Linked DNA regions of Homo sapiens: region 1 is linked to region 2. Evidence: fine-mapped expression QTL. Tissue or cell type: whole blood. Region 2 holds a variant in brackets; the other region holds the start of a gene. All regions are shown on one strand. Distances are between the middles of the regions.

The links. PIP is the estimated chance that this variant, and not a neighbour inherited with it, causes the effect.
Region 1: TRIM61 starts here. The variant in region 2 is fine-mapped to the expression of TRIM61 in whole blood (TOPMed, PIP above 0.99).

Annotation. Positions count from the first base shown.
Region 1 is chr4:164,976,036-164,978,719 of GRCh38, forward strand. TRIM61 (tripartite motif containing 61) reads right to left here and starts at 1,622. Exons shown (of 3, transcript NM_001414904.1): 1 at 1,496-1,622; 2 at 653-790. RefSeq lists enhancers at 1,731-1,810, 1,841-1,900.
Region 2 is chr4:165,019,242-165,021,925 of GRCh38, forward strand. No RefSeq gene overlaps it. Among named protein-coding and RNA genes, the nearest start is that of TRIM60, 11 kb to the right of the region's middle. The variant G/A (reference allele first, on the strand shown) is at 1,524.

The sequences.
Region 1 (2,684 bases), 43 kb before region 2:
AGAGAAACATAAATCTGGCTTACGTGCACGTCCAGTCATAGTACTTTCCCTTGAACTTAATTATGACATAGATTCTATTGCTCACATGTTTGTTGCTGACCTTCTCCTTATTATAACCCTGCTCTCCTACTACATTCCTTTTTGCTGAAATAATGAAAATAATAATCAATAAAAACTGAGGGAACTCAGAGGCCGGTGCCGGTGCAGGTCCTTGGTATGCTGAGCGCCGGTCCCCTGGGCCCACTGTTGTTTCTCTATACTTTGTCTCTGTCTTATTTCTTTTCTCAGTCTCTCGTCCCACCCGACTAGAAATACCCACAGGTGTGGAGGGGCAGGCCACCCCTTCATAAAGGACACAAGAGGACTCACTCCAGGTATCATTGTGCCCTCCTTTCCCCAAGCATACACCCAAAGCAGTCTTCTCTACTATTTAAAATCAGGACATTAAGTGAACAGAACAGCTCTGTAGGCACAGTCACCACCCTAGTTTAAACCACTTATGTCTCTCTCCTAGATACACAATGGTGCCTCCAATTTCTGAAGTCTGTAGCTAAACTGACCTTTTCAAATACAAACAGAATCCTTTCATATTTCAACTGAAAACATTCCACTGGTCCTTTATTACTTTATGGAAGCAATTCTCAAATCTTACCTTGCATTATAATCACCTGGAGGTCTTGGTAAAAGATTGCCTGGGCCACATCCCCAGTTTCTGACTCAGTAGGGCTGGTTTTTTCCTAAGTTCCCAGATGATGCTGCTGGCCTGCGGACTGTACTTTGTGAACCTATGCTTTAAGGAAAACAAAGCAAAAAGATCCATTAAGATCTAGTCCAAGTTTTTTGCCTAGCTCCCATCATGTCACATATCACAGTTATGTGATTTTACAGCTACTCTGCAATTCTTTACCTAACTGTAAAAACCCCTCACCAGGCAGCAAGCTTCTTGGTGGCAATACGTCTCTAGCTTGTTTGAGGAATAAATAAAACCTGTGGTAGATTCCAAGCTCTCAGTTTCAACCATCATCATACTGGCTGATTCTTAACATGCCTGCACCTAAAGCGCCTCATCTACAAAGTTGAAATGATAATTCGTACCTGTAAGACCCTTGTGAGGATTACAGGATGCTTACATAGGTCGAGGGTGCAGACGACGTAGGCTGGTGGGTTCTCAACTGGCAGCTACCACTTCGCTCCCTTAACTCCCCAACCCCCACTCCCAAACACGTACATTAACTCTTTGAAGATAACATAGCCACTTCATAAACCCTAATTCAGATCATAACATTTAAAGCTTAATTGATACAGGCTCAACACCCCCATTCTAACTCTACAATCCTGAATTTTTCACAAGAGCTACGCCAGACACTAAGGAGATCCAGTCGTGGGCAGGCAGCGACCCGGAGGTTTAGGCACAGAGAATGTTCAAGAAGCCCCTGTCCAGTTAAGCCTCCTGGCGAGGCCCTTCTGGGCCTTTCCTGCGGCCTTCCCAGCTCACCTGGAGCAGACGGATCAGCAAATCCGGCCAAAGAATACTCAGGACCCACCGAGCCCCCGCGAGGAAGGACTCATACCCCAACCCCACCAAGTGGGCTGCTTCCTGCCTGGGGCTCAGCCTGCGCGGTGGTTGGCAGTTGCCCCGGAAGTGGGCGGGAAGGACCTGCGCATGCTCTGTGACCCTGGGTGCAGGGATTGTGTGAAGATTGAGAGCTGGGGGCGCCCTCTTCCGTGATCAGGGCCCCGTTGGCCCCAACTGGCATTTAATTCCCCTGGCTGTCTTTTCGGATTCTTATCACTTTTTATGTATATGAGTAAACTTGAGGGTCCAAGTAAGTCTGCAAGTTGGTTTTAAAAGCTTCACCAGCACAGCGTCCCCTCCCAGATGGTGAGGGAGTGGAGAGCTTTGCAGGGTCAACTGCTTCCCGTAGCCTGGGGTCGCAGGGTGGAGTCGTTGAGCACTCCCTATGCTTGAAAGAGGAATAGAAGCCCCTTTGGATTAGTTTGCATCTCAGTGGGTGAGTGGGTGGATCTCTCCCACCCTGTGGGATTGTGCCCTACCCTATGAACTCAGGTTTACCTGAGGAAGTGACATTTCAGGCGGAATTTGAGGGATGAAGAGGCATTCGTTGGATCAATTCCACGGTCAAAGTCTTCAAGGCTGGAAGAAGAGCCAATGTGGAGCCTCTCAACTTTAAAGAATTTAGTACAGGCCGGGCATAGTGGCTCACACCTGTAATCCAAGCACTTTCAGAGGCAGAGGTGGGAGGATCGCTTGAGGCCAGGAGTTCAGGACAAGCCTAGGTAACATTGCCAGACCCTGCGTCTACAAAATATTTTAGAAATGATTTTTTTTTCTTTTAATAAGAGACGGAATCTCTCTTTCGCCCAGGCTGGAGTGCAGTGGCGCGATCTTGGCTCTCTGCAACCTCTGCCTCCCAGTTTCAAGCAATTCTCCTGCCTCTGTCTCCCGAGTAGCTGGGTCTATAGGCGCACGCCGCCACGCCTGGCTAATTTTTTGTTGTTGTATTTTTAGTAGAGACGGGGTTTCATCGTGTTGCCCAGGCTGGATTCGAACTCCTGAGATCAGGCAATCCGCCCGCCTCGGCCTCCCAAAAGTGCCAGGATTACAGGCGTGAGCCACCTCACCCAGCCAGAAATGATAATTTTATTTTTATTTTTATTTTTTT
Region 2 (2,684 bases):
GTTCATTCTTGGGTGTTTCTCGCAGAGGGGGATTTGGCAGGGTCATAGGACAATAGTGGGGGGAAGGTCAGCAGATAAACAAGTGAACAAAGGTCTCTGGTTTTCCTAGGCAGAGGACCCTGCGGCCTTCCGCAGTGTTTGTGTCCCTGGGTACTTGAGATTAGGGAGTGGTGATGACTCTTAACGAGCATGCTGCCTTTAAGCATCTGTTTAACAAAGCACATCTTGCATCGCCCTTAATCCATTTAACCCTGAGTGGACACAGCACATGTTTCAGAGAGCACAGGGTTGGGGGTAAGGTCACAGATCAACAGGATAAAGATTTTTCTTAGTAGAGAGCAAAATGAAAAGTCTCCCATGTCTACCTCTCTCTACACAGACACGGCAACCATCCGATTTCTCAATCTTTTCCCCACCTTTCCCCCCTTTCTACTCCACAAAACCGCCATTGTCATCATGGCCCGTTCTCAATGAGCCGCTGGGCACACCTCCCAGACGGGGTGGTGGCCGGGCAGAGGGGCTCCTCACTTCCCAGTAGGGGCGGCCGGGCAGAGGCGCCCCTCACCTCCCGGGCGGGGCGGCTGGCCGGGCGGGGGGCTGACCCCCCCACCTCCCTCCCGGACGGGGCGGCTGGCCGGGCGGGGGGCTCCTCACTTCCCAGTAGGGGCTGCCGGGCAGAGGCGCCCCTCACCTCCCGGACAGGGCGGCTGGCCTGGCGGGGGCTGACCCCCACCTCCCTCCCGGACGGGGCGGCTGGCCGGGCAGAGGGGCTCCTCACTTCCCAGTAGGGGCTGCCGGGCAGAGGCGCCCCTCACCTCCCGGACAGGGCGGCTGGCCTGGCGGGGGCTGACCCCCACCTCCCTCCCGGACGGGGTGGCTGCCGGGCGGAGACACTCCTCACTTCCCAGACGGGGTGGCTGCCAGGCGGAGGGTCTCCTCTCTTCTCAGACGGGGCGGCCGGGCAGAGACGCTCCTCACCTCCCAGACGGGGTCGCAGCCGGGTAGAGGCGCTCCTCACATCCCAGCCGGGGCGGCGGGGCAGAGGCGCTCCCCACATCTCAGACGATGGGCGGCCGGGCAGAGACACTCCTCACTTCCTAGATGGGATGGCGGCCGGGAAGAGGCGCTCCTCACTTCCTAGATGGGATGGCTGCCGGGAAGAGGCGCTCCTCACTTCCTAGATGGGATGGCGGCCGGGCAGAGACGCTACTCACTTTCCAGACTGGGCAGCCAGGCAGAGGGGCTCCTCACGTCCCAGACGATGGGCGGCCAGGCAGAGACGCTCCTCACTTCCCAGACGGGGTAGCGGCCGGGCAGAGGCTGCAATCTCGGCACTTTGGGAGACCAAGGCAGGCGGCTGGGAGGTGGAGGTTGTAGCGAGCCGAGATCACGCCACTGCACTCCAGCCTGGGCACCATTGAGCACTGCGTGAACGAGACTCCGTCTGCAATCCCGGCACCTCGGGAGGCCGAGGCTGGCGGATCACTGGCGGTTAGGAGCTGGAGACCAGCCCGGCCAACACA[G/A]CGAAACCTCGTCTCCACCAAAAAAATACGAAAACCAGTCAGGCGTGGCGGCGCGCGCCTGCAGTCGCAGGCACTCGGCAGGCTGAGGCAGGAGAATCAGGCAGGGAGGTTGCAGTGAGCCGATATGGCAGCAGTACAGTCCAGCTTCGGCTCGGCATCAGAGGGAGACCATGGGGAGCGGGAGAGGGAGAGGGAGAGTAGAGGGTTCATTTTGTAGTTTATTTTCTAATTTGAATAATGGATCATACTTGTTTTCACTGACTGACATGTTGATAGAAAAATGTATGCTTTATTTCTGCTTTCAACCTTTTTCAACATCTCTTACAATCAAAATAGTCAAAGATCAATGGTATCGTACCTGAAAGACTGTAGAGTATGATATATTCTCTTGCTTTATTCTTGGCGGGTACTTCTAATAAAGAGTGTGACTCCATTTTTGATGTTTGCTGACAACTTTTAATCCTCACCCCTCTCTCTTCTTCTGCTCCACATCCAGGCTGGCTGATAAGCCAGGATTCCTCCCTCTGGCACAGGTGGGAAGTAAAATAAAATGCAGAACGCTGAATATAACTTGCTCCCATTGGTGTGAAAACAAACTGAAAAGGGTTTCTTTGCTTGTATACTGATATATCCATAAGATTTTCCCGGAATGATATGGAAGAAACTTATGAATGGCAACTCTGGAGAGAAACCTGGGTGTGGGATGAGAGGGCAATTTGCTTTTCACAGTATCCTATGGTGACACTGTGTATTATATCAAGTTCATCTATATCATAATGTTTTAGTGTCTCAACAAACACATTTCTATGATTAGAATAGAGAACCCCAGCCAGGCACAGTGGCTCATGCCTGTAATCCCAGCAGATTGAGAGATGGGGGCAGGTGGATCACCTGAGGTCAATAGTTCGAGACCAGCCTGGCCAACGTGGTGAAACCCCGTCTCTACTAAAAATAAAAAAATTAGCCAGGCATGGCGGCACATGCCTGTAGTCCCAGCTACTCGGGAGGCTGAGGCAGGAGAATCAGAACTCAGGAGACAGAGGATTCACTGATTGCGCCACTGCACTCTAGCCTGGGCGATAGAGCAAGACTCAGTCTCAAAAAAAAAAAAAGAATCTGAATACATCCTATGATGTGTGACTGCTGCCAGCTTTTAAATTT